Homo sapiens: one gene and its partners. The protein of the gene in region 3 purifies or fractionates together with the protein of the main gene of each other region. This does not show direct contact. Each region holds a gene or a part of one and is shown on either strand. Other genes may lie near its edges. The genes, in order: FRAS1, COL6A2 and CCN6.

What was found.
Region 1: the proteins of CCN6 (region 3) and FRAS1 purify together in Homo sapiens (affinity purification with mass spectrometry; one large-scale study listed by BioGRID and IntAct). This does not show direct contact.
Region 2: the proteins of CCN6 (region 3) and COL6A2 purify together in Homo sapiens (affinity purification with mass spectrometry; one large-scale study listed by BioGRID and IntAct). This does not show direct contact.

Annotation. Positions count from the first base shown.
Region 1 is NC_000004.12:78,473,298-78,476,951, forward strand, and holds part of FRAS1 (extracellular matrix organizing protein FRAS1 isoform 1 precursor), read left to right. Parts: intron 1-140; coding exon 141-300; intron 301-2,140; coding exon 2,141-2,309; intron 2,310-3,654. UniProt on the Homo sapiens protein: Involved in extracellular matrix organization. Required for the regulation of epidermal-basement membrane adhesion responsible for proper organogenesis during embryonic development. Involved in brain organization and function.
Region 2 is NC_000021.9:46,101,067-46,104,720, forward strand, and holds part of COL6A2 (collagen alpha-2(VI) chain isoform 2C2 precursor), read left to right. Parts: intron 1-3,654. UniProt on the Homo sapiens protein: Collagen VI acts as a cell-binding protein.
Region 3 is NC_000006.12:112,057,032-112,060,685, reverse strand, and holds part of CCN6 (cellular communication network factor 6 isoform 1 precursor), read right to left. Parts: intron 1-3,654. UniProt on the Homo sapiens protein: Plays a role in mitochondrial electron transport and mitochondrial respiration. Through its regulation of the mitochondrial function may play a role in normal postnatal skeletal growth and cartilage homeostasis.

The DNA of each region.
Region 1 (3,654 bases), on a different chromosome or scaffold from region 3:
ACTACTATACTTTTGGTGCTTGGAAAAATAAGTTTTGTCTGTAATACATTAGAAGAATAAACTAGGTTTGTTGGTGTGGTAATCTATGAAGCTGTCGTTACATCCCTGGGTTAATTCACAGTGAGTCTTTTTTCTCACAGAGGATGTGAACTTGGGGTTGATTCGTTATGTGTTGCACAAGGAGAAGATCCGTGAGATGATGGATAGTTTTCAGTTTCTGGTGAAAGACAGTAAACCCAATGTGGTCAGCGACAATGTCTTCCATATCCAGTGGTCACTCATCAGCTTTAAATATACCAGGTACAAGTTTTACTGTGCTTTCCTTCTTGAGAAATCAATCAGGCAAGCAGAGGGAGTCAGGATGAAGGATGCTGGGGGGCAGCTCTAGTCACCTCTTGATGGCGGTGATGGTGATGATGGCAGTGATAAAAGTAATAATTTCACCAAATATTTATTGAGTACTGTATGTATTAGGTGCTGCACTAGGACTCGACATGCATCATCTTATATAATACTTGGAATTCTGAGATGAATTCCATTCCTGTCTCCACAGTGGCAAAGTAATAGAGACAGAAACTTGTTTATGTAACTTGTCCACAGTCACATAGCTAATAAGAAGTAAGACCAGGATGTAAGCCCAGTGATCTTAACGATGTGCTCTACTGCTGCTCAGACAAATGTTTTTGCTTCTGTCTCTTCAAGTTTTAGAAGAGAGTCTAGTAGAACTGATAGGAAAAATAAAAATAGGCATTCAAGTTTGGAAAATAATCACTGGCCCACACTATCAATATCTTCACCTTCCATCTGTATTCTCCTTGTTCCCAACCCTGTTTTCTCCCCTGGCTTCTTTGGGTTTGGTAGGAATGTATATCTGTAGGGCTAAATGCATGGCTTAATGTGGACAGCCCTTTAAGATGCTTTTCTAATCTGTTGGAGAGTTAGAAAGGCAAACAGAGAGATACTGATTGTTAAAGGTAGTGTGCAAGCATGGTGCTGATTTTATAGGTTAGATTATAACTAGGATTATAATTTATGTGGGGGAAATATTCTTTAAGTCTACATTTCAGAGACTCACTATCCAAGAAATCAACTTCATGAAAATTCAGATAAAAATTGGAACTTGGGGGAAAAAAGGAAGACTTAAAACCTTGATTTCATGTGCCCCAAATTCAGGCTATTCTACTCTTACACACATTTGGAGAATTAGAGGAAAATTAGAATCAACTTTTACATATGTAATGTTTTGCTGTTATTTACCTCTCAATTGTATCACCTTCAAAATTCAATAAATTCAATAAAATTCATCCCTTTTTCTGGACAACCCTCTAACATTTAATGGACTAAGTGGTATAGACGGTCCCAAAGCTGGCAATGAGGACTGAGCTCTCAGAGTCACTTTCCCTGCTGTCCTCACAGCAACAAGACATGCACCCAGGTCTAGGGGCCATCCTCAGTGGTGAAAAACAAAGCCCAGCTCATGCCCTACTTTCTGTGGCCTTTCCAAACCTAGATACTTATTATGAATCAATAGCATATGAATAGTTGGCCTTCTACTTTACAAATGCAATAGAGATTCTGAGCAGCAAGCTAAATTAATCATGTCCTTCCCCCATTGTCATAAAGTTCTATTTGTCTAAACATCTCTGTTATGTAGGCTTACCTCACATTTTCTTACCTCTGCTTCTGCTCTGACTCCATCACACAGTTCCTGGAGATCTGGTCCAGTCAGTTCCCACCTAAGTCATTGATTGCCTTCAGAGCAGCTTTCTTCCCTAAGAACCCACTGACCTATTGTGATTACTCAACCCCAGGAGGGAGAGATTGTTTTTCCTTTCTCTGTGCCCTGAAATCTGAAGTTCATTGCTCCTATGTGCTGTCCATCTCCCAAAATGACTCTTAGCTTGCTTGCAAAGCAGGGAAGACGACATTCTGCATCCACAGCTTCCCTGTTTGTTTCGTGCTCTGATTGTTCAGGTGAACTCATTCCCTCAATTTACAGCCTGGATTCTTAGAGGAACCAAACTTCCTCTTCTCTGACTACCTAATGCCAAGAACCAAATGGAAGAGACAGGCATTAAACAAGTTGTTTTTTCATAACCATGGGGCATAGTTTAAGAGATGCCTTTTTGTGTGCTTCCAGCTACAATGTCAGTGAGAAGGCAGGGTCTGTCAGTGTCACGGTGCAGAGGACTGGGAACCTGAACCAATATGCCATCGTCCTGTGTCGCACCGAGCAAGGCACCGCCAGCTCCAGCTCCAGGGTCAGCTCCCAACCTGGGCAACAGGACTATGTAGAGTATGCTGGCCAGGTAGGTGGGGTAGTGGGGTTGGGGGAGGCTCCAGCAAGGGCTGTGACATGGCTGCAAGCAATTGTGGCACTTTCCTACTTCTTCCCAACTTTGCTTTTCACTGGTGTCCTTCTTCAAGTATTAAATAGTTTTCCTATGTTCCCCTCCCATAGTACTTTGTTCTTCACAGTCTCTCTAACCTCCATTGAAGTTTTAACTGCCAAAGGGGAAGTTGTTGTCTAGCTTCTCAGTCTTTACATTTTGCTTCATGACAAAAAGAAGTCTCCAAGCATCATGTTCTATATTCAGCTTTGGTATCCCAACCGTTCTTCTCCTCTCACCTTCTTTACCTAAAGGGAGAGAAGAGAGTGTGTAAGGAGACTGGTTGGGAATCCCTTGGGGTAGGCTGGCTGAGATGATGGGAGCTTGGGCTTCGATTATGAAGTGAAGTTTGAGAGAAGCGGATGGATTTGACAGATGAGTGAGAATTGATAGGATTTGGCAGTGGATTGATTAGACAGTGGGGCCATTTGAAAGATGGATGATGATGCCTCTTGCTAGGAAGGGACATATAAGAGGAGCCGGTTGGGCAAGGTTTGGTGCTCGTGACTTTGCTTTGGCTATGTTAGGTATAAATTGTCTTAGAAAGAGCAGGTTGACCACTGTATAGATGGGCAGGCAGTGCAGAGAGGAGTCTGGTGTCCAGAGAGAAATTTGCAAGTCATCTACATACCAGTGGTAATTAAAGGTGGCAATGAGAAAGAAAAAGGAGAGAGTGAAAGTGGAAGAGAAAGGAGGACTTAAATAGTCAACTTAAATAGTCAACAAATACAGGGCCCCATGTATTTGTCATCTTTTATGGAGGGCACAATGTCTGACACTTAATTTTTTTTTCAAAGCAACTTTATTGTTATTATGGCAACACAGATCTCTGTAAAGAGAAGTGGGCTCTGTTCTTTAATTGAGGCATTTCAGCTGGACTAAGCTAATGTCTCTAATGTCAAATGTAAGTGAGGAATTAGGAAAGAACAGATAAGCTAATGTCTTTCAGCTAAATGATAAGACGGAGGATATTCTTGTGTTTTTCAGGGAAAGACAGAAGACTGTCAGTGTATTCTAGATCTTACATAAAGATCTGTTGAGTGTTTCATTTCACTGGGAGTGTTTTAAAATATGAAGCTTAATAAAAGTGTTATTAGTTGATTAGATATATACTAATAATTTTCTGTTTGAGTAAAATTTTTGCAGATTTGTGTGTCCCCAGACATTTATGTCTGTTTTTTGTACATATTTCAGTTATCTCCGTTTACACAAAGTATAGTCCAGGCTCATTTCCTGCAGTTTCAGTTTTGGGCAAGTCCATAGT
Region 2 (3,654 bases), on a different chromosome or scaffold from region 3:
CGGGTTCGCTTGGTTTTTTTTAAATGTTAACCATCCTAATGGGTGTGAGGTGGTATCTCACTGTGGTTTTGACTTGCATTTCCCTCATGATTAGTGACGTTGAGCATCTTTTCATGTGCTTGTTGGCCATTTATATATCTCTTGGGAGAAATATCTGTTTAAGTCCTTGACCTATTTTTGAATCAAGTTGATTGTTTTTTGTTGTTGAATTTTAGGAGTTCTCTGTATATTCTGGATATTAATCCCTTATTAGATACACAGTTTACAGATATTTTCTCTCATTCTCTGGGTTCTTTTTACTCTGTTAATGATGTCCTTTCACTAGATAGATGCAAAAAATGTTTTTAAATTTTGGTGTAATCTGATTTATCTATTTTTTCTTATTGTCATACCCAAGAAATCATTGCTCAGTCCCATGTCACGAAGGTGTTACCTTATGTTTTCTTCTAAGGGTTTTAAAGTTTTAGGTCTTAAAACGTAAAGATCCATTTTGAGTTAATTTTTGTATATGGTATTAGGTAAGGGTCTAACTTCATTCTTTTGCATGTGGATATCTAGTTGTCTCTGCACCGTTTGTTGAAAAGACTGTCTTTATCGAATGGTCTTGACGGCTTGATTGAAAGTCATATATGCAAGGGTTTCTTTCTGGACTCTCTGTTTTATTCTGTTGGTCTGTATGTCTGTCTTTATGCCAGTGCCACACTGTTGATGACTGCAGCTTTGTAGTAAGTTTTGAAATTAGGACATGTGAGTCCCCCAGCTTTGTTCTTATCTTTCACGATTTTTTTTTTTTTTTTTTTTTTTTTTTTGGCTATTCGAGGTCCCTTGAGATTCCATCTAAATTTTAGGATTTATTCACTATTTCTGAAAAAAAAAACAATCACTGGGATTTTTATAGGGATTACATTAAACCTCTAGATCAATTTGGGTGGTATTGACATCTTAATATAGTAAGTCTTCCAATCTATGAACATGAATGTCTTTTTTTAAATGTCCTCTTCAATTTCTTTCAGAAATGTTTTGTAGTTCTCATTGTACAGGTCTTTCACCTCCTAAGTCAATTTTTAAGTATTTTATTATTTTTGATACTATAGTAAATAGAATTGTTTTCTTAATTTCCTTTGGATTGTTCATTGTTAGTGAATAGAAATACAAGTGATTTTTATGTGTTTACTATGTATTCTGCTATTTTGCTGAATTTGTTTATTAGTTGTAACAGTTTTTGTGGAATTTTTAGGGTTTTCTACATACAAGATCATATCATCAGTGATCAGAGATAATTTACTTATTTCTTTCCAATTTGAATGCCTTTAATTTCTTTTTCTTGCCCAATTGCTCTGGCCAGAACTTCCAGTACAGTGTTAAATAGAAGTAGTGAAAGCAGGCATCCTTCCTTTATTTCTGACCTTAGAGGAAAAGCTTTCAGTCTTTCACCACTGAGTATGATGTTCACTGTGGCTTTTTCGTATAATATGGCTTTTATTATGTTAAGGTTGTTTCCTTCTATTCCTAATTTGTTGAGTGTTTTTATCATGAAAGGGTATTGAATTTTGTCATATGGTTTCTCTGCATCAACTGCAATGATCATGTGTGAGTTTTTTTTCCTCCTTCATTCTGTTAATGTGTATTACATTGATTGATTTTTTTTTTTTTGTATGTTGAACTATCCTTGCACTCCAGAAATAAATCCTACTTGGTCAATTCATTAAATTCCATTTAATTGCATCAAATTATACCAAATTTAGTTTACTATTAATAGTATTTTGTTTAGGATTTTTGCATCAATGTTCATAAGGAAGACTGGATTGTAGTTTTCTTTTCTTGCAATATCTTTGTCTGGTATTGGTATCAGAGTAATGCTGGCCTCATAAGAATGAGTTAAATAGTGTTCCCTTCTCTTCAAGTTTTTTGAAAATTTTGGGAGGGTTTGGTGTTAGTTCTTTATGTGTTTGGTAGAATTCACCAGTGCAGCCATCAGGTCCAGAGGTTGTTTGTCAGGAGATTTTTGAGTATTGATTCAATCTCCTTACTAGTTATGTCTATTCAGATTTTCTATTTCTTCATGATTTGATTTTGTCTTGATAGGTTTTGTCTGTCTGGAAATTTTTCCATTCCATCTGTGTTATTCAAATTGTTGACATATAGTTGCTTATAGTACACTCTTATAATCTTTTTTATTTCTGTAGAATTAGTAGCAATGTTGCCACTTTCACTTATAATTTTAGTAATTTGAGTTTCTTCTTTTTTTCTTAGTCTAGAATCTAGCTTAAGGCTGGTCAATTCTGTTATCTTTTCAAAGAACCAACTTTTGTTGTCATTGATTTTCTCTATTATCTGTCTGTTCTCCATTTTGTTTATCTTTGCTCTGATCTTTATTTTTTCCTTCTTTCTGCTAGCTTGTTCTTTTTCTAGTTCCTTACATTGTAAGGTTAAGCTCCTATTTGAGACCTGTCTTTTTTAATATAAGCATGTATAGCCATCAGTTTCCCCCTTAGCACTGCTTTCACTGTCGAACAAGTTTTTAAATTTGTGTTTTCATTTTCACTCATCTCTAAGTATTTTATAATTTCCCTTGTGATTTCTTCTCTGATCCTTGGTTATTTAACAGGGTGTTGTTTAATTTCGTGATTTTTTAAATGTCCTTGTTGCTGATTTTTAACTTTACTCCTTTGTGGTCTGAAAAGATATCTTGTATGATGTAGATCTTTCAAAATCTATTGACACAGACTTTGTTGTTGCAACTAACCCCGTCATTGCAAGCCCTTCTCCGTCTGGTTGAAGTGACTTCCAGGAGATTTAAAGGGCTGGCACCCTTTTCTCCCTTCATTTTTCTCTTTTTCCTCTTTTGAGACGTAGACATTGAAGACTAGCACATTCAAAAGCAACCATATATGTGGAGAAAATAAAAAAGTCATTGCACATGCTCAGGGGAAGTCACGGGCTTAGAAAAGACCTAAGAAGACCTTAAGTTTATACTTTATGCTGATCCTTAGCACAGAGACAGCAACAATCAAAATTATAAAAACAAGAAAAACCAGCAAACTCTGGGGAAGAAAGAGATTTTGATTTCACAAGGCATACAAAGAAACTTTCCTATTTCAAAGGAAAAAAAAACAACAGAAACTGTCACTGAAAAAGACTTGGTGGTAGATCTACTAGACAAAGGCTTTGAAAGAACTATCTTAAAGATACTCAAATAACTAAGGGAAAATGTGGAGAAAGTGAAAGAAAATGTAGGAACAAATGAAAATATCAATAAAAAGCTAGAAATTTTAAAAAGAAACCAAAGGGAAATTCTGGAGCTGAAAAGTACAATAACTGAAATTTAAAATTCACTAGAGAAATGCAAAGGCAGATTTCAGCAGGCAGAATAAAGAATCAGGGAACTTGAAGATACAAAAATGGAAATTATTGAGTCTGAGGAGCAGAAATAAAAAGATTGAATAAAGGTGATCAGAGCCTAAGGGGTCTGTGGGATACCATCAAGCAAACCAACATAAACATTGTAGGAGCCCCAGAAGAAGAGAGAGCAAAGGGAGCAGAGAGACTATTTGAAGAAATAATGGCTGAAAACTTCTAAAATATGATGAATGACATGAATATAACCATCCAAGAAGCCCAAAAAGCTCCAAGCAGGATGAACTCAAAGAGACC
Region 3 (3,654 bases):
TAAGGCCTCTAAAGTATCTTCCCTCACTATATCTCTTATCTCCAACTCATACCCCTCTTCTGAACTCAGACTCAAACTGCCTACTTAACATCTCCACTTTGATGTTTAATAGGTATAGCAAATTTAATATGACCAAAAACAAGCTCCCAAGCTTCCCCTTCCACTCTGCTCTTCCACACACTTCCCTATTTAAGCAAATGCCAATATATTTCCAAAATACCTTGAGATCAGATCATGCTTGACTCTTCTCTTTCATATTTTACATCTAATTCCATCAGTAAATCCTGTTTATTACACCTTTAAAAATACCCACCTTGATCATTTATTGATACCTTCTCTGTTACCATCATAATCCAAGTCATCATTGTTCACTTGGATGATTACAATAGCCTCCTGAGTGTTCACCTTCCTTGCTCCTTTGTCCACTTGACATCCAGAATGATTCTTTAAAAATAAGCCAGTTCATATCACTCTTTGCTCATATGGAGTGACTTCCTCATGGCCTCCCATTTCCATGTAAAATTCAAAGTGCCACCATGGCCCTGCATCCTGTGGTCCCCCCTCCCCATATTACTTTGCCCACTGCCACTCACCCCCTTGCTGCCTCCACACCAGCCACACCAGCGTCCTTGTTCTCTGACTCCAAGCACACTCTGCCCCTAGATATCTTCATGGCTCACTCTTTTACTCTCTTTAGGTCTGTGCTCAAATTTCTCAGTGAGGCCCTCTTTGACCACTCTTTGTGAAAGGGCACCCTATCCCAGTCCTTTCACCGTAGAGTTTACCACCTTTCTTATTACCTACACATTTCAGTTGTTTACTTTCTGATACCTGCACCAAGAATGTGAGCATCTTGAAAGCAAGATCTTTGCCTAATGTCTGTCTTGATGACTGCCATCTTTATAAATCACTTTACATGGTTATTTCAATCAAACTTCATAGCAACAGCGTGCAGTGGTGATTATACCATGTGATAGGCAGATAGTGGTCCCCTCAAAGATGTCCATGTCCTAATCCCTGGAGTCTGTGCATATATGTTACCTAAAACATTGAAGGGGATTTTTGCATATGTGATCAACTTAAGAATCTTGAGGTTATCACTCTCGATTATCCAGGTGGGCCCAAGGTAATCACAAGTACATTGGGTCCACTGGGGAAGGAGGCAGGCATGTCAGAGAAGATGTGATGGCAGAAGCAGAGGTAGGAGCGATGCCGTTGCTGAAATGGGTCATGGTCCAAGGAAGCCAGACAGCCTTTAAAAGCTGGAACAGGCAAAGAATGGATTCTCCCCTGCCACCTCCAGAAGGGAGGCAGTCCTGCCAACGCTTGATTTTAGCCCTGTAAGACCCATTTTTGGACATCAGATGTCCAGAACTGTAGATAATCATGTTGTTTTAAGCCATTCAAGTTGGTGATTTCTTACAGCAGCAATAGGAAACTGTATACTCCATTTTGTAAATGAGGACCCTGAGACTCAAATTATTTAAGTTGTCCTATGTGACATATCAAGTAAGTGATAGAAGACTGATTTAAATCAGGCAGGCAGGTTCCAGAGCCTAAGCTCTCAACACTTACCCTCCTTCCTTTCCTAGTCCAAATCATACTGCAACCCAGCTTTGATACAGAACAAATCACCAAATCTCTGCATCTATTTCTCCAGCCTAGACCTCATCCCTTAAGCTTACAACTTATTAGTTGCTATGGTACATATGCACTTTGAGGTTCTACAAGTACCCTCCCCCTGACAAACTGCTCCTCAACTAGCAGTTCCCATTTTAGTGAATGGCGTCACCATCCACTCAGGTCCCCTAGTCAGGAAGCTGAAAACCATCTGGATTTCTTCCTCTCCCTCATCCTTCACACGTGAAAGTGTCTGACCTACAGGAAATGTGCAAGCACTTATGCACAGCATTCAGGGCCCTCCTCGTGTCTTGCAGTTCTTGTATGCATTAGGTTCCAGAAAGTTAAAGTGCCTGTAGTTCCCTGCATATATGATGCTGTTCCTCCTGCCTGGGACATTCTGCCCAGACCCAGCTCCTTCTTCATCTAGTTAAAGGATACTTCAAGGTTCTGTTTCAGTATCATCTTTTCCAGAAAGGTTCCTATAACTTCCCTGCCTTGCACACATTTTTAAACTGAAATTACCCATGTAAGTGCCTATCTCTTCCACTAGCCGTAAAGCCACCCAACCTCAGGTGCTTGTGGTTTGTTTGTGAGTATACCACCAGCACCTAGCACAGTGCCTGGCAATTTGCTTATGTAAATAACTCTTAATGTTTATTTGATGGAACCAGGGACTGTTGAATTGATTACTAGATCTAAGTCCATTTGCAGCTCAAAAATTCTACATTTAGAAGTATCTGTAGGAAATTCCACCCAATATTAAACCCTCAGCCTTTTTTCTTACTACTGGTAAAACACATATGCCTCAGTAAAGAGTAACGTTTCAGCTGTGATTCAAAAGTTACATGCACAACGTGAGAATGGGTTTTGATGGGGAGGATAGGACACTGCTGGGCTTCTGGAGAAGGAGCAGGGGAAAAGGAAACATCAAAATGGAGAAGGGAGTAGAAATAGTGAAGCTAGAATCCTAAAAAAATTTTAAACTTAAAAAAATTTTGCCTCCATCTCAGTTTTGCACAGGTTCAGCTATAGCCACCAGTGATTCAGGATGCCAGGTTCAGTGGCCTCTTTGCTGGTCTCACATCCGTGAACCCTCTTCAGTCCTCCTCTTGCCCCACCTCTCTAAGGCATTTAACTCTCCTCTACCTTGGATTTCATTACATCTGGTCCCCCCAGTCCTCCCCTTACTTTTCAACGCACTTTCTCAATCTCCTCCGCAGGCTCCTGTTACCCTGAATTTGACTTAAATTTAGGCCTATTGGTGTTTCATAGCTTTAATGTATTGCTTGCCTCATTCTACACTGTGTCTTGGCAATCTCACCCACACCCTTGCCTTCAGTTTTCATCCTATGCAAGTTTCAAAACTAAATTTCCAGCCTGGACTTCTCCACTGAGCCCTGGACCCGTGAGATAACTACCTACTGGACATCTCCACCCAAATGTCCTCCAGGAAATACTCAAGTCCAAAAGTCATCATTTTTCACTCTTCAAAGTTTGGAGTCAGGAAGCTGGATTCATCTGGGTTGTCTTCCTCCCTCTCACCTCCTATGACGATTCAGTGACCCTCTCCTATGTATTGTATTGTCCTCGTCTTCCCAGAACTAGATGCTTTTCCCCATTTCATTGCTACTAAGTAAGCACCGTCACTACGAGTTCCTGACTGACCTTCCTCCCTCCAGAATGACTTTTCAAGTGCATCTACTATGTTGCTCCTGGAGGAATCTCTTTAAAGAACATGTCTGGTTGTATTACTCCTCTCCTTAAAGCCCATCAGGGGTTCCCCATAGTCCATACTGTGCAGCCTAAACTTCTGAGCCAGTTATCCAAAGCCCTCTCCTGCCTACCTCTTGAGCTTTAGCTCTCACACACTCTCCTTCCATGACTTGCCATTTGCTGGACTCCCTGGGTTGGTTTTCTCCTCCCTGCTTTTTCATGTGTTCTTTCTAATGAAATGCACACTCCCAAAACTGCCCCCGGATGCCTCTTTAACTTTCCAATTTTGAAGCATTTCCAGATAATCTCTGAGGTCAA